Linked DNA regions of Homo sapiens: all the other regions are reported to be linked to region 3. Evidence: microRNA targets listed by miRTarBase, many of them from high-throughput screens and not tested one by one. Region 3 holds a microRNA gene; each other region holds the end of a gene's coding sequence.
What was found. Region 3 holds the annotated microRNA hsa-miR-4643 (GACACAUGACCAUAAAUGCUAA, at 2,580-2,601, opposite strand). A microRNA usually pairs through its seed, bases 2 to 8, with sites in the 3' UTR of a target mRNA and lowers its output. Matches are read on the target gene's strand: a 7mer-m8 pairs with bases 2 to 8, a 7mer-A1 pairs with bases 2 to 7 and ends in A, and an 8mer does both.

Region 1: miRTarBase lists FGF5 as a target of hsa-miR-4643. Seed matches in the 3' UTR shown: 7mer-A1 at 3,465-3,471 and 7mer-m8 at 91-97.
Region 2: the mRNA of FOXL1 is a reported target of hsa-miR-4643. Seed matches in the 3' UTR shown: 8mer at 1,700-1,707 and 7mer-A1 at 1,278-1,284.
Region 4: miRTarBase lists PNMA8A as a target of hsa-miR-4643. Seed matches in the 3' UTR shown: 7mer-m8 at 2,158-2,164 and 8mer at 2,198-2,205.
Region 5: the mRNA of BAG4 is a reported target of hsa-miR-4643. Seed matches in the 3' UTR shown: 8mer at 1,447-1,454 and 7mer-A1 at 1,655-1,661.
Region 6: miRTarBase lists NDST1 as a target of hsa-miR-4643. Seed matches in the 3' UTR shown: 7mer-A1 at 3,099-3,105.

Annotation. Positions count from the first base shown.
Region 1 is chr4:80,285,762-80,290,836 of GRCh38, reverse strand. FGF5 (fibroblast growth factor 5) reads right to left here. Exons shown (of 3, transcript NM_004464.4): 3 at 1-4,512. The coding sequence ends at 4,165. Among named protein-coding and RNA genes, the nearest start is that of FGF5, 22 kb to the right of the region's middle.
Region 2 is chr16:86,578,865-86,583,936 of GRCh38, reverse strand. It overlaps FOXL1 (forkhead box L1), which reads right to left. Exons shown (of 1, transcript NM_005250.3): 1 at 459-5,072. The coding sequence ends at 4,176. Among named protein-coding and RNA genes, the nearest start is that of FOXL1, 2.9 kb to the right of the region's middle. RefSeq lists an enhancer at 3,907-4,528.
Region 3 is chr6:91,519,235-91,524,309 of GRCh38, reverse strand. It overlaps MIR4643 (microRNA 4643), which reads right to left and starts at 2,650; the gene lies at 2,573-2,650.
Region 4 is chr19:46,464,446-46,469,520 of GRCh38, reverse strand. It overlaps PNMA8A (PNMA family member 8A), which reads left to right. Exons shown (of 3, transcript NM_018215.4): 3 at 944-3,018. The coding sequence ends at 960. Among named protein-coding and RNA genes, the nearest start is that of PNMA8A, 4.6 kb to the left of the region's middle.
Region 5 is chr8:38,209,487-38,214,561 of GRCh38, forward strand. BAG4 (BAG cochaperone 4) reads left to right here. Exons shown (of 5, transcript NM_004874.4): 5 at 522-3,815. The coding sequence ends at 1,007. Among named protein-coding and RNA genes, the nearest start is that of DDHD2, 20 kb to the right of the region's middle. RefSeq lists a silencer at 1,225-1,519.
Region 6 is chr5:150,552,392-150,557,464 of GRCh38, reverse strand. NDST1 (N-deacetylase and N-sulfotransferase 1) reads right to left here. Exons shown (of 15, transcript NM_001543.5): 15 at 1-4,252. The coding sequence ends at 4,133. Among named protein-coding and RNA genes, the nearest start is that of NDST1, 47 kb to the right of the region's middle. RefSeq lists an enhancer at 188-357.

The DNA.
Region 1 (5,075 bases), not on the chromosome of region 3:
CTGGAAACCATCATTCTCAGCAAACTATTGCAAGGACCAAAAACCAAACACCACATATTCTCACTCATAGGTGGGAATTGAACAATAAGAACACATGGACACACGAAGGGGAACATCACATACCGGGGCCTGCTGTGGGGTGGGTGGAGAGGGGAGGGATAGCATTAGGAGATATACCTAATGCTGGATGACAGGTTGGTGGGTGCAGCACACCAGCATGGCACATGTGTGCATGTGTGACAGACATGTGCATTGTGGACATGTACCCTAGAACTTGAAGTATAATAATAATAAAATTTAAAAAAAAATTCTTAGATGTAAAGATGCCTCACCTGACTCCACTCAGGTTGGATCAGCATCTTGTTCCCTTTTCTCCCCTGAGACTTTCAAATAGGGCAGAGTAAGATGGAGGAGGTAACTCTTTGTCTCTGCTAATACCTAATCATATAATCTTATTTCAAAAATTGGCCAGTACAGTTGGATTGACTACAAAAAAAAATTAGGCCTTGTCCATTTATCCAGAGGTTTCCTTCAAAACTTTTAAAAAATTTTATCACCTAAAATGGATTTTAAATTATCAGAATTTAGATGTAGCAATTAAGTAAATCTTAAAGGAGGTGTAGAATTCCTTTAAGAAGTTATTGTCTGCTTCCCATTGCAGCAATGTCTGCAATACTACTTTTTTTAATGAGCCCAGAAACAATTCTCTGCAACTGTAAAAATTATGCCAGAATGCAAGTTTTTGGTTAGTGCCATAGTTTCGTTTTGTTATTGAAAATGGGATAAGTCATGATTTATTCCCTCCCTTCTATGGAAGGGTAAAAAATGTTAATGGTAAGAAAGTTATTACATTTTCTATTTCAAGATTGATTTAATAAGAAATTTACCTACCAGATTTATGATGTTTTATTTTTAGCTACAAGAAATAAAAGCTTAAAAATAACAGAAATAAAAGCCTTAGTTTTATATATGTAATTTTTATAATATATACACAAACTTGGAAATAACTTCTGTCAGTATCCCTTATTATTGTCACATGATTTTGAACTTCTGGACCAATATAATTCAGCTGAAAGAACCAAGAAAATTAATATGCACCTGTACTCTCAAATTAGTCTCTTTAGAAGGAAGTGAAGAGAGACTCTTGAAAGATAAATCACAGTGTTACTACATCTTATTGAAAATTTCTATTTATCTCTATAGATGTTCCACATAAAGAAATCTTAAATAATTAAACATAATATAATTGATAAAACTGACATGTTAGTCTGGAGATGTTTGTCACCTATAGACAAAATAGACTCCTAAATATTAATATAAAAGTTATTGTTGTGTTTAGATGAACATAACCATAACCAAATAATTTTATTTGATATTTGGTGGTTCTAGTTACTTAAAATAATAAAAAGCTACATAAGCAAGAACCCTCTTAGAAAGTTGTAAGCATTAGTATAGACTTATATTTATACATGTTTTCTGTACATAAGTTCATTTAATTAATTGATGTAGGTAACTTTATGCTTCACTAAGCATTAATTATACATCATTGTACCTGTAATCCCAGCACTTTGGGGAGGCCGAGGTGGGCAGATCATGAGGTCAGGACTATCAAGAGGCCAGGATTGAGACCATCCTGACCAACATGGTGAAACCCCGTCTCTACTAAAAATACAAAAATTAGCTGGCGTGGTGGCATGAGTCTGTAATCCCAGCTACTTGGGAGGCTGAGGCAGGAGAATCCCTTAAACCAGGGAGTTGGAGGTTGCAGTGAGCCGAGATCATGCCACTGCACTCCAGCCTGGTGACAGAGCAAGACTCTGTCTCAAAAAAAAAAAAAAAATCATTTTGTATGGCCAGTAAAGACAAGTGTAATTGTGTAATTTAATATTTTCTTTTTAATTTTAGCATGGCTTTAAATTTTGAAATTAATGATTCCTGACTTGCATAATATATATTTAGTAGCTATCCTACTTTCACGTTAATATGCTAATCAAATCAAACCAGGAGTATAAGATAAACTATTACATTTGAGTTTAATGTAGCCTACAAGCAACATTTAGCCTATACAACTTATGCATTGACGTGGCTTATTGTTGACCATCATTATTATCTTTCCCTTCACTTATTAGGAACATATGTTTACTAGTTCCTGTTTGGCAGCTAAAATTTTTCATGTGCCCTAAGAACTTGGTATACAGTGCACAATACTTAACAATAGATTAGAATAAACTAGAGTAATATTTTTAGCTTTAGGCTGTGTAAACAGGGTCATATGCCATTTGGATGAGAGTTGAACATACTAAAAAATTTCATTGTTTCATTTAACCCAGAAATACTTTAAAGTATAAATTAGTTCAATTTTTGTAGCATTTCATTTTATGCTATTTAAACATTATGCATTCAGTGGAAAGAATGCTTAATCAGATAATTGGCTTTATAATAAAACACTATACTGATGTATACATATAATGTTTTAGTTGATGGATGGGTTTTTTAATATATTATTTGTTATATATATGTGTGTACTATTTTCCCATCAAATTAAAGCAATCTGCTTATATGGTAGCTAGTTCAATTTTGGTAAGTTTCCACTTTGTATTTGTGCACCAAAATAAATCATAGTTTGCTTTAAGAAAAAAATAGTTTATAAGTACACTTTAAACATGTTTAAATGCAAACCATGAAGTTTCTATGAACCCTTTTGTTACTACTAAAGCCATATGTTTAGCCTTTAGCTATGCCTTTTTTGCCACATTTCTGAATGTAAGATAAACGTGTATTTTGCAGAACTTTATTAAAATGATTACCTGAGAATAAATTTTGTAAATTTTCTTAAGTTAAATTTTCTGTGATTTATGTCCAGCAGTCAGTATTTAGGTTGAAATTAAATGCCATTTCAACACAACAAATTCCCAAATTAAGTTACCTCTATCAAAAGGCCAGTTTTTTTAATAAACATCAGAAGTTTCCTTATAAAAGGGCACATCTATTCACTGGATTGGTTACCTTTAGGAAGGGAAGCTCAAAGAGTGTTTGACTGAGTAATAAGAATATTTCTGACAATGGGACTTGGCATGGATAACTGTTAAACCATTGATCTCCTTCAGTTCTCTATCATTTCTAAGTGTTTGCTCCCTGTGGATCTATACAGTGGGATAGCAGAGAGTCATAGAAGTATTTTTAAGCACTTGAATTTCATAGTGTATGCTTCATGGACAGAATAAAATGTATTCCTCCAGCTGTTCAAGAATGAGGGCAAGGGGGAGATAAAAAGAGAAATGAAGGCAAGACAGACTTAGATCTCAATAAATGTTGCAAACTTAGTGTACTTTTACCTCTAAATCCTTTTCCTTACCTCCCACATTTAATTCCATCAAAAAGTCCTTATATTTTCTCCTTGCTTCTAACCCATCATATCCCAGCCACCAAAGGTTTAGGATTCCACATAATGTCATGAATTGACATACACATACACACAAATCCAAGCTGAGCCTTTGGTGCTGTGAAAGAGAATTTAAACATTTTAAAATGTAAAACTAAACATATTATCTGAGGTATGGCTAGAAATAAAAACAATAAAAAAGTGCAGTGAATAGGAAAAATGTAAAAGATTTCCATATTACAAATGAGCTATAAACACATTTATAATTCATAAACAGCATAAAATGATTGCTTATGTCATATTAATTAAAATAATAAAAGTAAGAAAATATGCTCAATGCAGAGGTACTTTTAAGAAAACAAACAAAAAAAAACAAAAGTTAACAAAATATTTTATCTGCATCAAAATATTCTTTGGAAACCAAAAATAAAAATGTATCATGTATGTTCTTTCAGGTTAATCTGTAAAAGTCAGAAAAATACGTAGTCCCTGTTATTTAACTTTCCGAAAATACAAAGTTCTAAATATCCCTCAAGCATAAAGCAAAAGGCTTTATGTCTTGCTGAACTGAAGGAGTGTGCTCCCTGTATTAGTACAAAGAATTCCAGTTTCCTTCCTATCAAAAAACATTTTGTTTCAGTCACATTGAAACAAATGACGTGACTTCAATACAGTGTAAGTATAGCTGAAGCTGTGTCCAGTAATTTTTCTTCAGAACTCTGAAGACACCTATAGAAACTCCTGAGGGGAAAGAATGGTTTCTCACAAGGCCAAGAGGAATATTATCCAAAGCGAAACTTGAGTCTGTATTTCACTGAGTTGGTATTTTTCCGAGGTGCAGAAAGGGGAATCTTTGGCTTGATAGGGCTAGGTGGCTTTTTCTTTTCAGGAACAGTAACCGTGAAAGAAAGTTCTGGCTGCTCCGACTGCTTGAATCTTGGCAGAAAATGGGTAGAGATATGCTGGGGTTTAACCCGGGGGCTGCACCCTCGTTTGGCTTTTCCTCTTTTATTCAGGGCCACATACCACTCCCGCCCTGTTTTTTCAGTTCTATGTATTGCTGAGGCATAGGTATTATAGCTATTTTCTTGAAAACGCTCCCTGAACTTGCAGTCATCTGTGAACTTGGCCTAAGGAGGAGAAAAAAAGAGGAAATTTAAGTTGTGGCGATCTTTTCAGCATGTAATAAAACATAAGGTATTGTAGAAAAAAAAACAATAATTTTGTTGATCTCTGTTCCTCCTACTCAATTCCTTTTTATAAAGACATGTTTGCTTATTTTAAAGTTGCTTTAAAATTACTATTTTTCTTTCTATATTTCTACTTCATTTATCTTTGTAACACATTTCTGTTCCCTACTTACTTGGTGACATAATATCGATGACTATAAAAGTAACCAGAACTCTTGATACATTTAAACCCTGTTACTATTGTTTAAATACTTTGAAATGTATAGTTACAAATCTTTTTACATACTGTTTTTCCTCCTAACTCACTAAGAAAATAAATGGAACTATATTACTAAGAAATGATTGCCTGGTAAAATATAAATTCCTGTTCACAGAAATGAGGTCAAAATTATTCCTTTGAAACAAGCTTGCATTTTTTCAATGTTATCAGTGTGATTGAGGCTGCTGAGAGAGAAGTAGCATATGGCCCCCATTAATATTGCACGTGTTAGAGTTCTTTAGAA
Region 2 (5,072 bases), not on the chromosome of region 3:
TTCCTGCCAGGACGCTGATTCTTGTACCTAATGGAAAAAACAGGTTGGGACCAAATCTTTGTTCCATTGCTTCCCTCCACCCCCACTGCTACTGTAAAGATACCTGAGTTGACTGTGACCCCCCCAGATTTCATTTGCACCCCAAGGTGGAGAGCCTGAGCTTGACTCTACATCTGGCCTATAAGCCACACATTTGATTTGCCTAGTGCAATTGGCATTTGGATGCCATCTGAAGGGACAGAACTTCCCTCACCCCAATTCAGCCCAAGCCCCACCACTGCCCGCTCCAGTGATCAGGCCCCACTCCAGGTCACTGTAAACACCTGTGGCCCCTGCCTAGCCCTGAAGAACTCAGCACTGGGGCCTCTGGATAAGGACCAGCAGAGGAGAGAGCTTGTCATGTGGCTATTCAGGTGTATTTAAAAAACTGCTTTAAATGTGAGTCAAAAGAATCTTACTTTTCCACAAACTCACGCTTTTTATTTTTAATGGACAAACTTTGCTTTTTATCATTTATGTTTTTCATTCTATGAAACAACCTTTATTTCATGGAAACAAGACTCCATCCACCATGAAGCCAGGAAGTGCACAAAATCATGGCTCTCCCCTTATTTTCTCACTCCTGGGTGCAGCTGGTTACTGGAAACGTCACCTACCTTTGTGATGTTAACATTAACCTGCCAGGGTCTGGGCAGGCTGGCTCTGGCTTTCAGCTGTAACAATAATTATATGTGGCTAATTCTTTAACATACACACGGGCATACACTCACCACTTTGAGTGAAATGGTGAAGACCACCATTCAAACGGGCACAATTAAATCTGAAAATGGCTAAGAAGGTCCTATTCAGGTTCTCAAAACTCTTATGGTTCACTGGAGGCCCAGGAGGCCGTTTGTTTCTAGAAAAGCCAGCAACTAGATGAGGCCAGGCAGAGCAAGAGTCCTTTGTAAAGTTCTCTGTCCTTGTGAACGGAGGGAAAAGTTCTCAAAGCGGGTGTCTTCCGCGATGTTTAAATAAAATCTGTCAGTTTCACTATACTAACACAGAACAATAAAGTTATCCCTGGTTCATACTACATAGAGAAACAAAACTATTAAAGCTATATAGAAATTATTATCTATTTTTAAAAACTATATAGAAAAACAAAATCTTTCAAATAGTATCAATACTTGGGTTAAAGTGAAAGGACTCAGTACTTGATCTGAGTCTCAGGTATATTCAAAAAAGATACATTTATGAGCATTCATGTACACAGAACAAATACACACACACACCCCTACACATTCATGTATATATATGTATATACATATATATAAACGTGTACATATGTATACACACTTTGTTATCAAACATGTGCCTGCCATATCCTCATTATGATCAGTGCACTCATATGTGTGTGGGTATTTGTTTGTGTGTGTGTGTAATCAGGGCTTGAACCAAAGATCATTTACAGAAGACAGATCTGTTCCCTTTGTTTAGATGAGAGCAGAGAGGTATTCCTTCAGATTGCCTAAGAGTACAATGATAAGCTTGCTTCTGGCTCACCCTAATTATAGCTGAGATTTTGTTTTAATTAAGAGCAGAAACTATTGACCTTATTGAGCCATAATTTTGAGCCAACGATTAAATATGGATCAATAGAACAGCTATTCGGATTGGTAAGACCCAAACCTCCTCTTTTTGGTTCAGGAGGAAGGAATACACATGCAATTATATAGATTACATAAAAACGACCTCAGTATCCACTTGTCTTAGCTTTTCTAAACCAGACAAAAGTTGGGATTAAATAGAATTTCTCTTTATGCATGTATAAACACACAAAGTGGATACATCTGCATTTTTTCTGTGTCATAAAAGTAACATTCGTACAATACTTTTTGGAATAGTAACTTTAAAATACGACCCTTTTAAAACTGCAGTATCAAATTATTTGCTTCTTCAAAACATAGCCATCACAAATTAACAAAACCTCCCAAGATAACATACAAACACAAAAAAGAAAAAGGAAAGATTAAAAACCGATTCAATACGGCAGAATTAACTCATCGTGCTTTCTGATATGGAGGCAGCTTCCTGGGCCCGGCATCCTCTCCACTCCTTCCCCTCCATCTGTGTGTTTACCCCTCAGAAGCCAGAGCCTCCTGAGATGCTAACACGACTCCCAGATATAATCCCAGTCTCCTCTTTCTTATTACACTGTTTGTTTATTTCCCTCCAGTAATCCACTGAACCAGTCACTGAGAGGTTAATGAAAAAACAACTTTATTCACAGAGGCTGAGAGTTTGGGATAGCAAAATATCCAGTGACAGCCCTTTCGCTACATTTTCAGTGAATCACAGTGAGCCTGGATCTCAGCAATGGCTCCTCCTGGAAGTTCTTCCAATCAAGGCTGGCCTGAAGTTTCCCAGAGTCTTCCCACTGGCCTGGGTAGAACCCAGTCGTGGAAGCCTGGTTCAGCATGGATAGGAGAATGAATTTTCCAAAAGTCACCTCTATGCCTGTGAATTATCCAATTACTCTGCCGGCCTGAAATGTCCTTTCCAACACATTGACCAACAGGCCCTCTGGATTCAAAGTTTGTCATCATTTTTAGACAAGTCCTGGAAACTATTTTAAAAGCGATCTTAAAGACCTCCCTCCCAACCTATTTCCAATAGTGCGTGACTACTTGTGTCTTTATCACATGACATAAAATAAAAGTGACTTAGAGGTTCAGAAAATTGCATTTCAGGGCCTCGAAGATTACCCAGCTAGAGATGGCATAGAGGTCGGTTGCATTTCCCCGGAAGCTGCAAGCTGAACTTGGTTGTGAACATCTCAATGTTCTTAATTAGATTTTCGTTGCAGACCTCTTCTCCCCTCCCCAGACTGCCAGTCACCTCTTTAAGGTTTTGATTTAGTATCAGCCTCCAGGCCTGCCTGGCAGGGCTGGGAGGGAAGAGCGGGCGGCTGCAGGGGGTGCGGGGGCCAGGAGTGTCTGGGAGATTCCTGCCATCAAACCTCAGGTCCTCTGGGGCCCAGAGAGGCCCCTTCCAGCGGACACCAGCACGTCCCCTTATTCTTCCCCCGCATTCATCCCTCTCTCTCTCTGCATCTGCTTTTGGTTGTTTCACCCAACTTTTTAAATTAAATGTAGTCTTTCATTATCTGTTTCTGAAAAATATAGCGACCACCAAGCCTGGATCTTGAAAAAACATGGAAATCAAAACTCTGACATTGTCCAAGGCATATCCCCTTCCCCTCACACCCTTCCTCATGGTATCCCTTGAAATATTTTGATCCCTTAAAAACAAAAGCAAAAGGATAGGACGTCTGCTGTTGTGGCTTACATAGCTGCATGTGTATTGGCTAATGAGCTATCGTAATGCAAGAAGATGTTATATAGAGTGCACTTTCTTAATAAAAATTGTTAATACAAGCGTTTTCAAAGGTCAATGCTTAGAGTCAAGTATTTATGCAAAGAATGAAACATGTTCTTTTTACTACCCAGAAAGAAATTAAGAGAAAAAGTCTCTGTTTAAAATAAAAGTGTTATTGCTCTGGGTGGTTATCAGCTTCTATAGCTGAACATTGGTCATAAATCCTCATCGGGCCCTACATCTCTCAGAAAACCTGAAAACCCGGGGTCACCCCCGGCACCTCCACAACTTCAAGTCAGGAACAAACCCAGCTGTGACCACCCACCACCCAGATGGGCTCAAAACCAAGGCCTGAGCCACACGGCAACAGCGAAGCAGGCGACGGTCATACGGGGGTCCCCGGTCGAAAGGACCTCAACTGCACCTGTAAGGCCTGCCTTGGGTGGTCTGCGGGCCCTTGCATGCCCGGGACTCGCAGGACCTGCGGTGGGCGGCTGAAGACCACACTCCATTAGACAGGTCAAACGTCAAGGAATCTCCCGCGGTGGAGGTCCCTGCAGGGCCCACGTGCGGTGCCCACGACCCCGCGGGGATCTTTTAAGTCTCCGTAGCTGCTCCCAGTTGCTGGGAAAAGTTTGCTTCGGAGAAGGCAGGCGAGCGCGCCCACCTGCGCGCAATGGTTGGTAACACTTCCCTGAACCCACAGGCCGACCCAGGCAAAGATCATTTTAAAATCCTCCGCCGGTGGGAGCTGTGGCCTTTCGCTCAGCGGAGGCTCAGGCTGGGCCGGGAGAAGAACCGTGCCATTGTTTGCTTTACTGGAAGTGGAGTACCGTGTCGGGAACCTGCAGGGGGAAATAAGAGAGGAAGGGGATCCCGAGCTGGTAAAAGCCGCCCTGGACATGCGGGTCGAGCATCAGGGAAGCGTTGAAAGGCGGACGGAGGCTGGAGGAGGCGGCCAGGAGCGAGGCACCCAGACGGCCGCCGGGCCCAGGCTTGGCACCCCCTAGGAGTTCGTCCCCTGAAGGCGGCTTCTGGCCCTGCTTTCCCGCCAGGATGCTGTCTATGCTGAAGCTCTTGGACTTGTCGGAGCTCTTCGGAGAGCTGCGGGAGGCGGGGCGCAGAGGGGACCCCGGGCCGTCCCCTGTGCGCGCTGCCTGGCCGACCGCCACGGCCGCTGCGCCCTGGGCAGCGTCACCAGCGTCCTCGTTCGGGGACGCGGTCCCCGGCCAGTGGAGGGGCGCCGGCGGAGAGGGGCCGTCCAGGAGGGGCGAGGGGCCCGCGGGCGCTGCCTGCAGGCGGGAGATTGCGGGGCCCGAGCCCCCTGCCCCGCTCCCCGCCTCCGGCTGCGCCTCCGCGCTGCGCTGGTGCGTCTCGGCGCGGGGCCTCTTGGCCTCCGGGGCCCCGGGGCCCGGCTTGGGCTTCCTCTTCCGGCGCCGGTAGTTGCCGTTCTCAAACATGTCCAGGCAGCGGGGGTCCAGCGTCCAGTAGCTGCCCTTGCCCGGCCGCCCTTTCTCGCGGGGCACCTTGACGAAGCAGTCGTTGAGCGAGAGGTTGTGGCGGATGCTGTTCTGCCAGCCCTGCCGGTTGTCGTGGTAGAAGGGGAAGCGGTCCATGATGAACTGGTAGATGCCGTTGAGCGTGACCCTCTGCTCGGGCGCGTCCTGGATCGCCATGGCGATGAGCGCGATGTAGCTGTAGGGAGGCTTCTG
Region 3 (5,075 bases):
TAGCAAAAGAAAGCAGTTGTCCTATCATATCAGCCACTCTTTTGGCAAAGAATTACTTTAATTTCTCATTGAATTTATGTGAATGCACTAAAGCAGACTCAGGTCTTGAGTGGCTCAGTTTGCTCATTCCCCACATTTACACACCTACAAATATACATATGTATCCTCCACATAATTATTTAATGCATATACGTCACATACACATGAACATATTTACACATATGTAATGCTTTAAAAATGTTACTGTATATTATAGGTGTTGATTTCATTCAAAGCACACGGACATTGTTAACACCTCATACACTATCCTAATTTAGGGAATCATTCTCAAAAGAGGCTGAAAAAATTCCAATTTGCAATACCATGTAAGCTCATATGGAAAGCCTTATCATTTTTTAATGAGTGGTGCCCTGACCTCTTCATTCAAGGTCAGATTGTGAAAATGTTAAAGTGAATCATAGGCATGAATATTCATTTGACACGCAGATACATACACACCAATCTTTGTTTTCGTATAAGTTACTGGTGTGGCACAGATTTCTCATTAAAAAAGAATTTTTGTGGTTAAAATCTGTTGCTAGCTTATCAAAGCACCTGTCTGCTTTTACAACACATATGGCATTCGATCCAGAATGCCACATGGGTATCAGTTTCTGGATAGACTTTAGCACTCTGAAATACACATCCAGGATCTGTCCCTCCTGAAATTAGATTACCAACTTGCAATTTGTTTTATCCATGTCCAAAAGGCTTTCATGCAGAGCTGAGGCTCTCTGGGCTGTGAGTGAACAATAGCTCTGTTCCCTCCTCATAGGGTGATTCTTCCTACACAACTTCAAGCTACTACCTTTGTCTTCTGTCACCTGAATTGCTGCAAGAGTGTTCTGATTGGTCTGCCAGAATCTAGTCTTGCCTCTTTCGAATATGTTTTTTACATCACAGTCAAATTTCATCATGTCTCTCTCTTGGTTAAAGCATTCAATGGCTTCCCAACGCTCTCAGGATAAAGTTCAAAATTATTAACCTCACAGAGGTACCCCCTTGTATTGTATCTCTTTAGCCTCTGCCTTGTGATCTCTTCTCCAGCCATAATGAGACACTTTCAGTTCCCAGAATTTGTTACATGTATCCTTGCTTCCAGGTTTCTGCACAGTCTATGGCTCCTGCCCATACTGTTAGTCTTCCTCCTCAACTACCTCTAGAGCTTCACTGGTTGAACTCAGTTTCTTCCCTTGAGGTGTCAGCATAGCCATGAGTCCCTCTAATGATCCTTCCCTGACACCTCCTCAACATTTTCTCAAGAGCTGTTGAGATGTTCCTATATGGTGCCATAGATTTTGTACTTCTATCCATACGTAGGTCTTGCTACTATAATTGCTGGTTTACTTGTTTGTCTCTCCCATAAGATTTTCTTATAAATTCCTTGACTGTGAGGAGTATATCTTATTAGCTATTATATCCCTAGCAGAATACCCAGCACTTAATAAATGCTAACAAATATTGTTTAATGAACAAAATAATTAAAGTTAGTTATGACACAAGTTATGTGTTTATGAGATGTGTTTATTAATTAAAATGCCAAACAAAAATTTCATTCCAAAGCTAGGAAATATGCCCTAATCAACAAATGAGAAATAGAGAAACTTAAAATCTTCATGATCTGTACTATTTATACAGACTTTTAAGTTCATTTTCATTTGAAATCTTTGATAATCAATTATACTAAAAAAGCAAGATAAATAAACAATAATCTAAAAACCTTCCTTTCTTCTTTCTATTTTAAGAAAAGAAAATATGGGGAAGTTACCCTTATTCCTAACCTTTGCTGCTGACTCCCCATCTAACTCACTTTACCTATCCTGATGTTATCACTTCATTTACTGTCCTGGTTACCTTCTGCTGCATAACAAATTACCCCAAATTTAATGGTATAAAAGTGACCATCATTTATTATTGTCATCTCTCATGATTCTGGGACTTGAGAAGGATAAGCTAGGTGATTGTTGCTCAGTGCCTCTCATGAGGTTTTAGTCAGATCCTGTGGCTGGAGTTGGTTTGATAGCATCATCATTCACATGTCTGGTGATGGGTCATGACTGGCTGTCAGCTAGAACTTTATGGGGAGCCTTTGGCCAGAACATTCCTGCATAGTCTTTGCATGTAGACTGGATTTCCTCACAGCATGGAGGCCAGGTTCTAAATATGAACCAGAACCTCAGCAGAAGTTGAGTGACATTTCCAAACTTAGTCTCAGAAGTCAGCAATCTTATTTACTCTGCATTTTAATCTTGAGAAAGAAGTTTGTAAGACCAGCCCATATTTAAAAGGAAGAGAATTGGAGTCTACTTCTTGAGGGGAGGAATATAAAAAACCTGTGGATACATTTAAAACCATAAAATTTACTTTCCCTCTAGGTTCCAAACATTCTTCTTTCTAGTTGGCATATTCCTTCTTCACTTGTCTCTCAGTACACATAAGCTTCCTCTGTGTTTAGTTGTCTATTCTCAATACACATTTGTGTGCATGTTTTTGTTTATACCTGTGAGGTGAGCTCAGTATGTTGTAGAAGTAAGTGTGCTTTAGCATTTATGGTCATGTGTCCACTTATGATCATGTGAATGAACACATGATTATAAATGCTAGGGCACACATACTTTAATGAGCACAATACAACGTAATGAACATGCTTGTGCTGAATCTGAAAGGATGAGCAGCTGTGTAAGTGACATTGGTGGAAAGGGCAGCCGTGTAGTCACATTGGTGGAAGTATGCAGACATTCCACTGTGACCTCCTAGTGGTCACAGCAAACTCCTCTTTCCTTTTCCCTATAAGAGTTACTATCCTTCACAGAAAAAAAATTAAAATATTTCTTTCTAGTTTGGGAACTTTAATTTTTTAAAATTGTGGCTTACATTTTCTGAATCAAGAGGGATAGTTTCTCTTAAAATACTCTTTCTGGGGTAATGAAATGTTTTGAAAATAGTGGTGATGGTAGTACGACATTGAGAATATGACAAATGCCACAGAACCATGCACTTAACAATGATTAAAATAGCAAATTAAATCATAATTTAAAAACTTTTTAAAATGTAACAATCTGAGAAGACTTTTTTTAAATAATAATGTTATAGACCAAAACCATTGAATTATATACTTTAAATGGGAAAGTTGTATGTTATGTGAATTATATCTTGATAAAGTTGTTTAAAAATGTTTATGGTAAAGACCTTTCACTTTCCACAATTATAGAGAATTATAGAGGGCTTTTACTTTCCACAATTATATACAGGCTTAACATAAAAAAGAATGAAGTCATGTCTTTTGTAGCAACATGGATGAGACTGGAGGCCATTATTCTAAAGGAATTAACATGGGAGCAGAAAACCAAATACTGCATGCCCTCACTTGTAAGTGGGAGCTAAACACTGGGTACACATGGACACAAAGAGGAACACAATAGACACCAGAGACTACTAGAGCGGAGAGAGAGGAAAAAACTCTTTGGATGGGTGTAGAATTAAAACAGGATGCTATGAATTGTGATCGTGTGATCCATCCCCCATTTGCTATGCCAAGAAGCTGAAGAGCTTTAACTGAGTCTCGCTGAAGGTAGGAGGTTGAATTGGACAACTTTTTTTAAATTTTTAAAATTTTTTAAAATTGTTATTTATTTAATCCTTTGAGCCCAACCTGAAATGAAAACAAATCATAACCAAAATTGGTAGTTTGACTGAAAAACTACCAGTTGGGTACTATGCTCACTATCTGGGTGGTGGGATCATTCACACCCCAAACTTCGGTGTCACACAATAGACCCATGTAACAAACCTGCATATATACCCCCTAAATTAAAAATGAAAGTTGAAATTATAAAAATAAATAAATACGAAGGGGCTTGAGTCATACTCTATTCAATATTAAAAGAAACAAAATTGGCTGGGCATGGTGGCTCACGCCTATAATCCCAGCACTTTGGGAGGCCGAGGTGGGTGGATCACCTGAGGTCAGGAGTTCAAGACCAGCCTCGCCAACAAGGAGAAACTTTGTCTCTACTAAAAACACAAAAATGAGCCAGGTGTGATGGCGCATGCCTGTAATCCCAGCTACTCAGGAGTCTGAGGCAGGAGAATCACTTGAATCCGGGAGGCGAAGGTTGCAGTGAGCCAAGATTGCGCCACTGCACTCCAGCCTGGGTGACAGAGCAAGACTCTGTCTAAAAAAAAAAAAAAAGAAAGAAAGAAAGAGAGAGAGCGAGACAAAAGAAAGAAAGAAAGAAAAAGAAAGAAAGAGAAAGAAAGAAAGAAAGAAAGAAAGAAAGAAGGAAAGAAAAAGAAAAGAAACAAAATAATTATATATGTATATATTTCAGACCAATATGCTTGAAAACAATGATATGGGGTTTTCTGGTTCTATAATGTGTACTTTATTGGCCCATCCTTAAGTACTTCATGTTACCTTTTAGCCTCCAGAGATGTGTTAGGTCTTTTGTGTTTTTGTTTGTTTGTGCTGTGAACAATTATCAGAAGCTCTCTAAGCCTGAATAATGGTTGCACTACGTCTATGCTCACACGAAATGACATACCCAAAGGACAGGGAACTGTTCTTAACTTAAACACAAGAAATCTATGTCAGGCAGTGAATAGTTACAGGTGACTTAAACAGAAATTATTTTCAATTCTGTATATAACCTTTTTCTCTGTTTCATTTCTAATAACTTCCATCATTAAAATTCTTGGCTCCCAAGTGAAAATGTGGGAGTGGAATCCATATATGGAAATATATATGTGGAACAAAAAGTAAAAAAATGAAAACATGTGGGTGTGGAACTTCTTTGATTATAATTTGTTTTCATTTCAGGTTGGGCTCAAAGGATTAAAAAAAAAAAGTTGCCCCATCCAACCTCCTACCTTCAGCGAGGCTCAGTAAAAACTTTTCAGCTTCCTGGCAAAGCAAATGGGTGATGGATCACACAATCATAATTCACAGTGTCCTGTTTTAATTCTACCCTCATCTAGTTCATCCCATCCCATTTTATCAAGTTCTTATTTGGTTTCTCCTTCAGCTAAAGTTCAGC
Region 4 (5,075 bases), not on the chromosome of region 3:
TGGAGACATCTGGTGGGCAGGAGGTGGCAGAGGAAACCCACAATGAGTGTCACTGTGGTCATTTGCCACTCCATCTGACCCATCTTCCTTGATGAGAATTTAATGGTTTGGGCCCAGGCTTGGTGGCTCATGCCTGTAATCCCAGCACTTTGGGAAGCCAAGGTGGGCAGATCGCCTGAGGTCAGGAGTTCAAGACCAGCCTGGCCAACATGGTGAAACCCCGTCTCTACTAAAAATACAAAAAATTAGCCGGGTGTGGTGCCACATACCTGTAATCCCAGCTACTCGGGAGGCTGAGGCAGGAGAATCTCTTGAACCCGGGAGGTGGAGGTTGCAGTGAGCCTAGATTGTGCCACTGCCCTCCAGCCTGGGTGACGAGAGTGAGACTCTTGTCTCCAAAAAAAAAAAAAAGAATTTAATGATTTGGGAGGCCAAGGCAGACAGATCACCTGAGGTCAGGAGTTCGAGACCAGCCTGGCCAACATGGTGAAACCCCATCTCTACTAAAAATACAAAAATTAGCTGGGCATGGTGGTTTGTGCCTGTAATCCCAGCTACTGGGGAGGCCAAGGCCTGGGATTGGCCTCCAGACATCTGCCCACCAGATGTCTCCAGCATCGGCCTTCAGGGGCTCCTGGAAGGGCGGTCTGGGCTCTTACCCTCCCTGAACCTGGGAGGTGGAGGTTGCAGGGAGCCAAGATCACACTGCTGCACTCCAGCCTGGGCGATAGAGTGAAACCCTGTTCCCCCCTCCCCCCAAAAAAAATATTAATACTTTGGAGTTATGGTGTTTGCAGGGTATGTGGCTTTAAGGGTGAAGTTTTCTAGAGACCTGGCTGGGGAATAGAAATGTTCAGGGACCCAGAAATTTCTTGGAAGTAATGCATTTCCTAATGACACCTCTCTGCTTCCCTTCTTGATCTGTTCTCTCATTTATTTGCAGAATCCAGAAAGGTTTGATCTGGGGGACCACCCATACTGAGGAGTTGAAAGAACAAGGAAGAAGTACCAAGTCAACCAAGTTCTCTCTTGTCACTGAATAAGACTTTGGACTCTCTTAGGGCCCCTGTTGATAGAGATCTGGCCCTGAGGTAAACGATAGGTGAGGTCTTGGGTGGGAGGGAGTTGGGGAAGGGAGGTGGATCTCTATGCCCTTTTCTCTACCAGGCCTGCCGTTTCACCGCCTTCTCTACTCACCTTCTCTTCGGAGGCAGGAGAGTTGGTAAGAGGATTGGGAAAATTCTAGAACATTCATTCCCCTTTATGCATGAGCAGGGTCACTGTTACACTCATCCATGTTCAGCTTTTCTCCCCCACGCCTTGCTCCCTCCTCGGAATGGTCAGCGACCTCTGCAGGCCCTGGCATTTGGAAGAGCTGGGTGGCCCTGCCATATTCTTCCTCCCGCCTTCCTCTCGTGTAACCAGCGGGGTAAGTTAAGCCAGGACCTTCGCTGCAAACCTGGTTTTATTGCTCCTTCAGTCTCCAGCTTCCATCCTCCAGTTATCTAGCCAGGAGGTCCCAAGAGTTAGTTTTAGGGAAAAAGAATGTCTGCCTAGACCTCAAAGTCTTTGAGTTTTAGAGTCTGTTAGTAAAAATGGCACTTTGATTCCCATTTGGGATGAGCCCTCTCAGGAATCCTGTGGGGAAGGGGGGTGATTATAGGGAAGGACGCAGGCATTCCTAGGTCCCCAGCTCTAATTCCATCCATCTACCCAACTGTCACCATCTTTGCACCAAACTGTCACCATCTTTGCAGCAGAAGGTCACTACTCACATTATAGTAAGAGGGGAAAAAAATCTTTTAAAACTTGGCTGTTGGCCGGGCACGGTGGCTCACGCCTGTAATCCCAGCACTTTGGGAGGCTGAGGCAGGTCGATCACGAGGTCAGGCGTTTAAGACCAGCTTGACCAACATGGTGAAACCCCATCTCTACAAAAATTAGCTGGGCGTGGTGGCGCGCGCCTGTAATCCCAGCTACTCAGGAGGCTGAGGCAGATGAATTGCTTGAATCCAGGAGGCAGAGGTTGCAATGAGCCGAGATTGTGCCACGGCACTCCAGCCTGGGCAGCAGAGTGAGACTCTCTCTCAAAAAAACAAAACTTGGCTGTTAATGTCTGCCCTCTGAATTCAGACACACTATATTAGACCAGACCACCATGTGTCATTGTGTGTGTGTGTGTGTGTGTTTGCGTGCGCATGTGTAGAGGAGAGAGCAGGGTCCCTGAGATAATGGTTTCCAAACTGTATCGTAGCCGTCCACAAAGATGTAATCCAAATCTATTTTTCTCACGTGTTTAAAAAACTGAAAAGTGACTACTCAGATATGTTGGAAGTCACATCGAAGACTATCAGAATATTACCTTGTGTTCATAGGTTAACTTGTTTTTGTACACGTCTTAGTTATTTCAGGCATCTCTTTGCTTAAAATTGAGTTTCTTGTAAATGTGACTGATGAGCGAGGTTAGAAGTGGAAGAAATTCCTGTGCATGTTCTATAATCTGACACCCTGAAAGCAAGTTTCCTTTCGTCATTCACATGCTCTTGTTCTGCCGTGACTGTTCAGGTGTATGGTAGTAAGTAAATGTATTAACATGGTGAACAGTAGTAATATTCTATCATAGAGTATTAGCCCTTGCAAGTTTTCAGGGCGTCTTTTCCGACTTCAGTTTTTGTGATAAAGAATGTGAACAGTTGTTAGATGTTCTCAGTGATTCAACTTTAAAACAAATTTCTCGTGATGATTCATTTCAAAATCCTGAGTGAGTCTGACTGAAAAATACGAGAGAAAAGAGAGTGGTTTCCGTTTGCAGCTACACAGCTGTGTGCATCGACGTTCTCCTGGGGTGTGTGCCAAGCGAAACCCAGGGGTGAATTGGATTCTTGAAGAGACCAAAGCCTGTAACTGTCCAGCTTCTAATTTCAAAACGGGTCCATTAGGGCTTCGTTGTGTTAACAAGTTGACACCATGACTAGTAAATGTAAACGTGTATGTATAAAATAAAGTTTAGCAAATTAAGTGTCCTGTTAAGTCTCTTGTAGGTGAGGATTGCATGGACTATTAAATTTGAGGAAAGGGTTCCCCTTTCCTCAAACAGTGCCCCCAGCCAGATGTGACTGGTTATCAGATACGGGTTCAAGCTTTGAGAATTGTTAATGATCCATGAGAGAAGAAGCCGTTTGTCCTCTTTGCGAATGGCTTTCCACTGATGTGGAAGGATGTCCCACAGATCTTGGGGTTTCTAGAATAGGTATCTGGTGACGCAAATTACCTCAAAGTACCAGTTTATTTTTTTATAAACAGCTGGAAAATGAAAACCTTTCCCTCCCTTCCTATTCCCTCACACAGAAGCCAAGGTCTTTTTTTTTTTTTTTTTTTGAGATGGAGTTTCGCTCTGTCACCCAGGTGGGAGTGCAGTGGCACAGTCTCAGCCCACTGCAGCCTCTACCTCCTGGGCTCAAGTGATCTGCCCACCTCGGCCTCCCAAAGCGTTGGGATTACAGGTGTAAGCCACCATGCCAAGCCAGAAGCTGAGGTCTTTTAGCTAAAAATATAGTTTTCTTCTGGCCCTCCCCTGCCCCTCCCCAGGAACTCCTGAACCAGGGTGGCCACTACATCAGTCACTTGGAATCTGTTCAAGGTACCATTTCGTGGCTCTACCTGCTGATTCAGGATCTCTTCGGGGTTGTACATAGTTATCTGCGTCTTAAACAGTTTCTCCTGAGAATTTTTTTTTTTTTTTTTTGAGACGGAGTCTCGCTCTGTCTCCTAGGCTGGAGTGCAGTATCATGATCTCAGCTCACTGCAACCTCTGCCTCCCGGGTTCAAGCGATTCTCCTGCCTCAGCCTCCCAAGTAGCTGGGACTACAGGGGTGCGCCACCACGCCCAGCTAATATTTTTGTATTTTTTTTAGTAGAGATGGAGTTTCACCATGTTGGCCAGGATGGCCTCGATCTCTGATCTCTTGACCTCGTGATCCGCCCACCTCAGCCTCCCAAAGTGCTGGGATGACAGGCGTGAGCCACCACGCCCAGCCAAGAATTCTATTAATAATACAGGTTGGAGAGCTTCAGGTGGAATAATTCAGACTTGGGGAAACGGAAGTGTCCTTAGGGGTCCAGGTTGAGGTTTTGTGAAAGTGAATGGAGATTATGAGGAAAGATGCGAAAGAGACCAAAAGGGAAGCTGGGATTTGAGGACGCGGAGCTCGTTAGGAACTGCCGTGTACTCATAGAAGCATCTGGATGAAGCTCTATTTATTGGGTGCCCCCACACCCCCACAATGGGAAAAGCCCTATTTGACCAAGATGTTTAAGTACCTCCCACAATAATAGTCACTCCTACTGGTTACACCCAGGCTGTCAGTAAAGTATGAAAGGCCTACGTGCCCTAAAAATGGGGGGAATCCAAGGTTGGGGCACATGAAAGCTCTCTTCAAAGAAACCTCATCGCCCCGGGTGGAGGTGTTCTGTTCAGGGGTGCGTCTGGGGAGGCGCTGGCCCGGAGTGTTTGCAGGAAGATGGAGAGCTGTGGATGCCACCAGCAGGGCTCGAGGGCAAAGTGTCCTGGTTGCCCATGCTGCCATTCAAGCAAGGTTCGTTGAGAATCTGCTGTACGACAGCCAGGAGCAAGACAGAGTCCTGGCTTCCTGGAGCCTGACGTTTGAGTGAGGACAGACCTTATATAGACACAGGTGGAGGGGTGGGGAGCTCTGCCGTGAAAAATATAACAGGAAGATAGGCAGGCAAGGTGAGTGTGCAGAAACGGCTGGCTGTCGCTTACAATGGTTGGGGGAGCCTCTCTGGGAACTGGATGTCTGAACAGACCTGAAGGGGGTGAGGGGTGAGACAAGCAGTTGGCCAAGAACGGCCTCCTGGGCAGAGGGAACAGTCATCGTGGAGGGAGGCTCTAATCTGTTTCAGAAAGTGAGTAAGGCTGGGCGCAGTGGCTCACACCTGTAATCCCAGCACTTTGGGAGGCCAAGGCGGGCAGATCACCTGAGGTCAGGAGTTCAAGACCAGCCTGGCCAACATGGTGAAACCCCATCTCTACTAAAAATACAAAAAAATTAGCC
Region 5 (5,075 bases), not on the chromosome of region 3:
CAGAAAGATACACATTTTCTGTTTGTTGTAATTCTTCTAAACGTTAAATGCAAAGATGCATTTTACTACTTCAAATAATCTATGAACAGAAGACAAAACCAATGTGAAATATCTGTAGCATGAGCTTGTATTTAAACCACAGACTTGAACATTATCACTTGTGGCTGTGTTCCTTTTCAAGACCTTGCTTGAGGTTTTTAACCTTTTAGGGGAAAAACTAATTCTTATTAATTAGGTCACAGGATGGACTATGAGGTGCTCATGGTGATGGACCTGCCACAGGGCAGGTTCCAGCCATTATAACTCAAAAATTCTGTGCCTTTTGTCTGACAGGGCACTCCCTTTTATCTTCTTAGGACTGTGTTTTTTTGCAAATGATTAAGGAGAGGGGTCCAATTTTATTGTTAGGGAATCTTTTCATGTACCTTTCTGGTCAAGTGAAAGATGTGGGCTAACAAATTTGATGTTGATGCATTCCCATTAAAACAGCTCTTTTCCTCTTTTTGCTCTCCCACTCCAAGGATTCTTCATACCCCTATAGCCAATCAGATCAAAGCATGAACCGGCACAACTTTCCTTGCAGTGTCCATCAGTACGAATCCTCGGGGACAGTGAACAATGATGATTCAGATCTTTTGGATTCCCAAGTCCAGTATAGTGCTGAGCCTCAGCTGTATGGTAATGCCACCAGTGACCATCCCAACAATCAAGATCAAAGTAGCAGTCTTCCTGAAGAATGTGTACCTTCAGATGAAAGTACTCCTCCGAGTATTAAAAAAATCATACATGTGCTGGAGAAGGTCCAGTATCTTGAACAAGAAGTAGAAGAATTTGTAGGAAAAAAGACAGACAAAGCATACTGGCTTCTGGAAGAAATGCTAACCAAGGAACTTTTGGAACTGGATTCAGTTGAAACTGGGGGCCAGGACTCTGTACGGCAGGCCAGAAAAGAGGCTGTTTGTAAGATTCAGGCCATACTGGAAAAATTAGAAAAAAAAGGATTATGAAAGGATTTAGAACAAAGTGGAAGCCTGTTACTAACTTGACCAAAGAACACTTGATTTGGTTAATTACCCTCTTTTTGAAATGCCTGTTGATGACAAGAAGCAATACATTCCAGCTTTCCTTTGATTTTATACTTGAAAAACTGGCAAAGGAATGGAAGAATATTTTAGTCATGAGTTGTTTTCAGTTTTCAGACGAATGAATGTAATAGGAAACTATGGAGTTACCAATATTGCCAAGTAGACTCACTCCTTAAAAAATTTATGGATATCTACAAGCTGCTTCTTACCAGCAGGAGGGAAACACACTTCACACAACAGGCTTATCAGAAACCTACCAGATGAAACTGGATATAATCTGAGACAAACAGGATGTGTTTTTTTAAACATCTGGATATCTTGTCACATTTTTGTACATTGTGACTGCTTTCAACATATACTTCATGTGTAATTATAGCTTAGACTTTAGCCTTCTTGGACTTCTGTTTTGTTTTGTTATTTGCAGTTTACAAATATAGTATTATTCTCTACTTCTTGGTACATTTTGTAGTAATATGTTTAATATAATTATTCAAGAGACTATATTGACAGCCAGATAGTATGGCAGTTCTGAAAAAATTTATATCTTTTCACCACTTGAATATACTGCAATGTGTAGTGAGTAAATTGTCTCCCTTTTTCTATAGATCATTAGGTTAGAGTTTTTTTCTTCTTTTTTTTTTTTTTTTTTTTTTACCACTTCTGCTGTTCATGGTAGTAGTGGAAGGTAAATTTGGAAATGGCATTGACATAAAATGAAAATGTTTACGGACACTTTTCTTTTTTGCTTTTTTATTGTATTTGGATAAAGATCCACTTAAAAGTTATCTGTTTTTTCCTGTTTTTTTTTTTTTTCCCCAAAGTGTAGTTATGTTTTCACTATTGCTGCTTCTATAGAGGGCATTGTGATAGAGAGTTACAGATGAAACATTAAATGCCACAGTGAGTAGAAATAATTACTACAAAAAGTAATAAATATGATTACTTGGTAATATCATTCTCCATCTAAAATACTAGTTTCACCTGTGAGCAGATTTCAGCTCAGTTTATAGTTAAAAACAATGAGGGTAAAATGGGATTCATGCTCAGGGAATGAATCAGCCATAGTTAGAGTGGGAAATTATTATTTTCTTCATTTAAAGGTAGATTTTATGTTTATTTCCCTAAATTGCATAAGATAAAATTGTCTGTTTAATAAAAAGACATTTATTACCATTATTAACAGTCATTTTAGAGCCAAATTTAAGAAAAGGATATTGAAAGGGTCTTTATTGGCCTTGTTTGGGTAACTCTATGCTGTTAGATAGAAGAGACTTAGGTAAATAACTTTTTATGTCTGAGGTGAGTACACAATATTGGTTCTTGGAAAAATAGCTGTTTCTTCATAAGATACCCAAGTGATAATTTTTTTTCCCCTAGACTGTCAGGCCTATGAGTAAATACTAAATCTATTAGCTGTCCCCACTCATAAACCAAACCAAACCAATACAAACAGATGAGGAGAGGAAATGTAGTAAAAATACTGGCTGGGTCTTATGATTGGGATGAGTGATTTTATAAGATAATATGGTGATAATTTTATTCTAGGATTTTATTTTTGGCCTAATATAGGAATGTTTAAAAAAGGCTTTTCTATGAAAATTAGAAATTTATACTTGAAATTAAAAGTCTAGAAGGGGGAGGACCTTAAAGCTAAGCTACCAGTAAGACAATGAATAATTCAGAAGAGAACACTATTCTTTTACTGACTGAGTGCCCAAGATGCCAATTTCCATGAAGTCTTGATTTATATATATGTACACATGTTATGCACATACATGTTTGTTTTCTAACAGTTATTTTTTAAGCTTTTGAGATAATTTTAGACTTACAGAAGAGTTGTAAAAGTAGTAGAGTTCTTGTATACTCTGCACCCACCTTGCCCTTATGTTAACATCTTACGTAACAATAGAACATTTGTCAAAATTAAGAAATTAACCTTGATATAATACTAACTAAAGTAGAAAGTTTAAAAAGTAGAGATTTTAGTCTTTTCACTAATGTCCTTTTACTGTTCCAAGACCCAGCCTTGCATTTAGCTATCATGCCTACGTCCTGTCTTCCAGTCTGTGACAGTGTATCATAACAGGGGATACCTGATGTTGTAATGTATTTCTGGTGTTGTTAACCTTGATCACTATGCTAAGGTGGTGTCTGCTAGGATTCGCTACTGTAAACTTACTGTGTTTTCCTTGTAATTATTGAATATTTGCTGGAGATACCCGGAGACTATGCAAATGTCCCGTTTCTGCTTAAACTTTTGCTCATTTTACTATCCATTGGCAGATCTTGCTTGTGGCAGTTACTACTGTGGTGTTCTAATGGTGATTTTCTATTTCTCTCAATCCTTCTACATTTATTATTGGAATTCTTCTGTAAGGAAGAGTTGTCAGTTCTGGATTTATATTTTTAACTATAATAAGATATTCAGGATAAGTATAGATTTAGAACTTAAAGATGTTAAATCATGTTAAAATTATTCCAAATACCAATATCAAAGAAAACTAAGTTGGTAATCTATCTCAGAAAATATATGAACTTAAGAAGGAAAATAGTATTTATGATTTGTAGAATTGGTTCAACTTTTGACTTAATACTGACTTTGGACTGAATTCAAAGTTTTCTTGAAATTTCACATCTGGACTTTTTAAAGTGTCTACATTTATATTACTTTGGGGATCATTTTGTCAAAGTCTTGAATAAAGTTACCCAGTCCTGGCATGATAAACACAACTATGTTTTTTTTTTTTTATAATAACCCTCTGTTGTTCCAAGTATGAATGCCAATGAAACTGTTTAAACAAATAAGCCCTAATGAAGTATACAGGGGTTGGATTATATGTGTCTCCACATGTTGGTGCAGAATTCTTTTAAATGCTTTTAAAAATGGGGTTCTGAAAACAGTTTTTCAGTTGGTTAATGTAAATAATACCATTAAAGCTAGGCAGGTTAAAAAAATTTTGAAGAATGTAGATTAAATAGGCATAAAAAAGTTTTTGGGGGATGGATAGTTGATGGAGCTTTTCTTTTACAACTTTACTTTTTTTTACTTATTTTTTTAAAAAAGTAAGGAGTTTACCTCAATTCGTAGAAGTTACGAGTTTAAAAAGTCAGTTCTATGAAAGGCAGCATTCTCCTGATCCCACCCCCATTTCTCCTTCTCTAAAGGCAACCACTTTCAACTGAGTTTTTCTTTTGTTAATCAAAAAATTTTGTTTTTAGAGACAAGAGTCTTGCTATGCTGGTCTTAAATTCCTGGGCTCAAGTGATCCTTCTGCCTCAGCCTCCTGGGTAGCTGCGACTACAGGCATGGACCACCTCAACCAGCTTCAACTGAGTTTTTATGTTTTTTTTGAGACGGAGTCTTGCTCTGTCGCCCAGGTGGGAGTGCAATGGCGCGATCTCGGCTCACTGCAACCTCCACTTCCCAGGTTCAAGCCATTCTCCTGCCTCAGCCTCCTGAGTAGCTGGGATTGCAGACATGTACCACCACGTCCAGCTAATTTTTGTATTTTTAGTAGAGGCGGGGTTTCACCATGTTGGCCAGGCTGGTCTCGAACTCCTGACCTCAGGTGATCTGCCCACCTTGGCCTCCCAAAGTGCTGGAATTACAGGTGTGAGCCACTGTGCCTGGCCAGGTTTCCAGGTTTCTCTCTCTCTCTCTTTCTCTCTCTCTCTCTCTCTCTCTCTCTCTCTCTCTCTCTATATATATATATATATGTTTTCTTTACTTTTTTTTTTTTTGAGACAGAGTCTTGCTCTGTCACCCAGGATGGAGTGCAGTGGCATGATCTCGGCTCACTACTGCCTGAAATTCCTGGGCCCAAGGGATCCTCCCGCCTCAGCCTCCCCAGTAGCTGGGAGGCATGCATTATGGCACCTGGCTAATTTTGTAATTTTTTGTAGAGATGGAGTCTTGCCATGTTACCCAAGCTAGTCTCAAATGCCTGGCTGGGCTCAAGTGATCCTCCCTCCTTGGCTTCCCAAGTGCTG
Region 6 (5,073 bases), not on the chromosome of region 3:
CACAGCTTGCGGGAGGCAGTTCCCCATGTAGGCTTTTCCCTGCTGCAACTGAGAGCCTGGCTCTGCTCCAGTGCACACAGACCACGGGTCTCCAGGAAATGAAAACCCTGGGACCCCAAAATAGAAAGAGAGAGACATATGATGTGTTTGGTGCCCTGTGGCCCATCCCCAGGGTCGAAGGCCCAGCCTTCAGGCATGCAGCCTCCTCCTTCCAGAGCCCTGTGTCCTTCCTTCCAAGGCCCAGATATTACGGCCTTCTCCAGGGAGACTTTCCGGCCCCCCCAGAGCTCTTGCTCTAACTGGCCCCTCTGCTGTTTTGGCACTTGGTACAGGTGACAGTGGAGGCGCATCTTAGGCAGAAGTGAAGCTGTCAAGTCAGCACAAAAGGCAAAATCTCATGTAGCCTAAATTATCCTTGAAAGTACAGGGGATAGAAGAAGTGGTTATGCGACACCATGAGCAAACAATCTGACAAATTCAGAATGTGGGGCTTCAAAAAGACAGCAGGCCTAGGGCCTCAAAAACAATGTCATTTAAAAACTCAAAGTGAGCTGAGGGAAGACCTTTCAGCATTCAAAGAGGTTTTAAAAACATAGTTAGAAAATGCAATGTGTGCACCGTGACTGGATGCTGATTCCAAAACCAGACACATAAGTTACCTGGGAGACAATTGGGGGGATTTGAATACAGATTAGATAGCAGACATCGCTGGGAAATGACTTCTCGTCTTGGCTGTGATACTGGGCCAATGTGTAGGACAATGCCCTAACTCTTAGGAGATGCAGGCTGAAGCTTTCAGGGATCAAGTTTCATGATGTTTGCAATGTACTTTTAAATTAGGACAGAGAAAACATATACATACACAGAGAGAGAAAAAGAATGTGGCAAAATGTTAATAATTTTAGATCTAGATGCTGGGGAGTGGGCATTCATAATTAAATGTTTGGTAAAACATTGTTGTATTTGCTTTTCCCACTAACAAGCCCATGGGCACAGCTCTGTGCTGGGACCACCAACCTCTGCAGGTCAGCGCAGCAGCTCTCCTCTGCTGGGAACAGATGGCTTCCTTAGCTGGGCCCAGAAGCACTGACTGCTCATCAGGGGGGCTCAGAAAAGGCCCATTTTTAAACTTCAGACTCATCCTCCAAGCAGCAGGATGCTCCACCACAGAAGGCTCTGGAACTCTGAATGACTGAGGCAGCTGCAGGTGACACTCGCACCTGCACCCACCCTGGGGCAAAGGCTCATGGAGGGGACCACAGAATAGACGATGGAGCCACCTGAACAATTTCAGTTATTTCTCTCTCCTTTTTTTGGCCAAATGCTTAGAGTGAATTAGTGGACATTGAAGACTGGCCTCGCTGGCCCACTCATCTGTGGCTTCTCTTCTCGGGAGGGGGTGTCCTTGTACCCATTAGCTAACAGCCCCCCAGGCAGCTTATCTGCCTCTCCTTCTACCCCCCATACCTGCAAGTCCCGGCAGTGTCTGGACCTAGTGGGTCTTCAAGAAAGGTCTGTTAGTGGGAGGAGAAGTGGCAGCAGTGACCTAGGCAGACAGACTTGGAACATGTGGCAGGTCCAGTCTCCAGGCTTGCAGAAGGGTCCAGGCAAAAATCCAGAAGATCTCTGCTGTCACAGGATTTCCAACCGCCTGCTCCTTCCCATAGCCAGAGGCAGAGAGAAGTGGAGCTCCTGCCCTAGGCCAGCCCACCTCTCCTGCCTTCCATGCTCTGCGAGAGAGGCCTCCAGGCCTAGAGGGTAGATTTCCGAACCTGGGAGCTGTAAGATCCTCACCCATCCCGCAGCCCAGTCCCCTCACTGACGGATGGGACTCTGGAAGTCACTGCCCCTCTCTATAAGCCCCTGGCTCCATGGCGTGGGCATGTCTTCATGAGCACACAAGCAGACATGCCACCCTGTCCTCAGACCCTTTGCTGCTCATCCTGCTGGCCCAACGATGCCCAAGTTCCCAGGCTTGCAGGCCCCATTGAGAGGCATGATGGGGACACTGCTGTGTACACAGTGAAACCACCTGCAGCTGGTCCCACTGAGTGTCCAACTTTCTTCATCCCAGCAGAGAACTGGAGAAAAGGGAATCAGCTCAGAACAGACCCAGGCCCCCACAGGCTGGGGAAGGACCCCTCGAGGGAGAACACGACAGGGATGCAAACGCAGACCTCGGAATGAGAAGGCTCAAAGGCACCCTGGCTGGGAAGGAGTGGTTTGTCCCCATATCCTGGAATGACCATGCTGTGACGGAGGAAGGGACAGGAACCTGGCACAGAGTAGGGTCCCAAGGATGGGCTCAGAGGCAGTGTGGCATTGGAAGAGGAGCACGATGGGACTTGGAACCGGGAGCCTCGGGTTCAACGCTCAGCCCTGCTCCCAGCTGGCTCCATGACGTCGGCCAAGCAGGCCACCTCCCCTTTCTGGACCTGTTTCATACCCGTCAAAGGACCTTCCAGCCCCAAGATGCTAGAGTCTTCTGAACAAGACAAGCCTCTCCAGAAAGTATTTCCTGGGGTTCAGAGGGAAGCAGAATTTGGCAGTTGGAGGGGGCCAGGGAGAGGCACCCCAGCCTCAGTCACTTCACATTGTTAAATGGGGTGGGGTAGGAGCAGACCCCAACCAGAAATCAGCCCAGAGATCCCACTGTCTACAAGGGCCTGGAGACAGTTCTGTGGGCCTTGGTGGGCATCCCAGCTCTCAGGGCAGCTCCCAGCCTAGCACCATGTGAGGGAGAGTGGGTGGGGCAGCTTTTGACCCCAGCTCTCCTAGCCCAGCCCTGGCTGTTTCCTTTGGCCAAAATCCCCTCAGGGTCACTGGACTTCACGCAGCCCGATGTCCTGGAGAGAGCTGGTCTTCCCTGCGCATCTCACCACCTCTGTTCACCTGGGGTAGCCCCAGAGCAGCCACGGCACTGGGGAGGGCCCCTTCCTAAGGTCTGCTCAGCCCCAGGCCACTGAGGACACAGCCTCCCTCCCTGCCACCTCATCTCTAGCTCTAAGACAGGGTGACCCCTGAGACTGGGGCTTACCACCATTTTGTAGGACTGAATTAAAAACGAACCCAACCAAAAAAAATAGAATATATATATATACACATTATATATATATATATATATATATAACACAGTGCGACCCCAGCACCCAGGGTATAAACTCTGGCACCAAGAAAAAAAAAAACAAAATATTAAAATATTTTAGCTTCTTAGTATTTGGGAGGTTAAGGGGGTCTCTGAGAGCCCTCGGCCACAGGTGGCTAAGCAAAGCCGTGGCTGGCAGTCTCACCAGCTCGCCCATGTCTGCCTGGGCCTGAGGCTGGGAGGGTGTGGGGACCGTGTCTGTACATGGGAACATGTTACTGGCAGACCCCTGGCCTGCCTCAGTCTTTTACCACAGGAAACACCACACATCATATCCCAGGGGGAAGAAAGGGGTGCAGGTGGGGCCCGGAGAACTGGGCCCGATGGCAAGGCAGTGCCCCAAGGCCCTGCGGGAAGCCTTGAGGATGGAGTGGATACTGTAGGAACCAGAAATTCTTCCCCAGAACGGGAGGGTGAGATGTGAAGGTAGGAACCAGATGTGGAGGCTGGGAGTCCTCTTGAGGGGGCCACCCTCCCATCCAGCCTAGGACTGACTCCGGGGACCCAGCTGGCCCCTTGGAAGAGCCTGGCTCGAAACAGGGAAATGTCCAGTCTGTCTCCCCCGGCCAGGCTCTCCTCCCCTACAGCCTGGAGGACAGGGACATATGGCAGCGAATACTGAGGGGCGCCCTGCGGAAGCAGGGAGTGATGGGTGACGAGAGGGGACAGTCGGCGGAACACAGTGAGGGACAGAAAAGAGTCTCGTGGACTCCCTCCTACCAGGAAGCGGCCTCCCCAGGAGCAGCTGGGAACGGAATGGACCTCTGCTGGCGAGGGAGGTCCCTTAGGCCGCAGACCCAGCGGTGGGTGCTCCGAGGTGCTTGCAGATCCGCCTGGGTGCTCCCCCAGCCCCACCAGACCTCCACAGAGTATTGCTCATAAGTGCGCAGCTGCCCTGGTCCAGCTTCCCACTCTGCAGGTCTGGCTCAGCGTGTGGTGGGATGTCCCAGCTTTCACAAACGTTCAGTCTGGCTGTGGTGGCCACGGCTACCTGGTGTTCTGGAGGTCCTCTCGTAGCCAAGTGGGAAGTGTCTGGCCCATCTTATACAGCAGCTTGGAGAGCTCGATGTTGTGGTCCCGGTAATAGTCCTTCAGGAAGGCTCGGGACTGTAACGGGAAGGAAAGCTCAGACCTTGTGTACTGACTTAAGAGTGACCTCCTCTAAAAATCGCCATGCTCGGCCGGGCACGGTGGCTCATGCCTGTAATCCCAGCACTTTGGGAGGCCGAGGCATGTGGATCACCTGAGGTCAGGAGTTCAAGACCAGCCTGGCCAACATGGGAAAACCCTACTAAAAATACAAAAATTAGCGGGGTGAGGTGGTGGGCGCCAGTAATCCCAGCTACTCGGGAGTCTGAGGCAAGAGAATCTTTTGAACCCGGAAAGCGGAGGTTGCAGTGAGCCAAGATCACGCGATTGCACTCCAGCCTGGGTGACAAAAGCGAAACTCCGTCTCAAAAGAAAACAAAAAAACAAAAAACCCACCATGCTGCTGGCACCACCCCCCATACACCTCTTATTTATCCACAATCTCCTTCTAAATGGTAGCCTCCAATAGTGAACTCCCAGTTGGCAGGAGCATCAAAATATAGCTCACTAAGTCAAAATTCTTCTGATAGGGAGAGGAGAGAGAATTAATAATCAAAACCCAAGGCGGGCAGGGCCAGGGCCAGGCACGGTGGTTCACACCTATAATACCAGCACTATGGCAGGCTGAGGCGGGAAGATCGATTGAGCCCAGGGGGTCGAGGCTACTGTGAGCCATGATCATGCCACTGCACTCCAGCCTAGGCAACAGAACGAGACCCTGTCTCAAAAACAAAACAAAACAAAACAAAACAAAAACAGAAGCAAGTAGGAAAAGGAGGAAGTAACAAGACCCCCAGTCTGTGACCCTTTTTCTATATATTTTTAAAATTTCTTTTTTC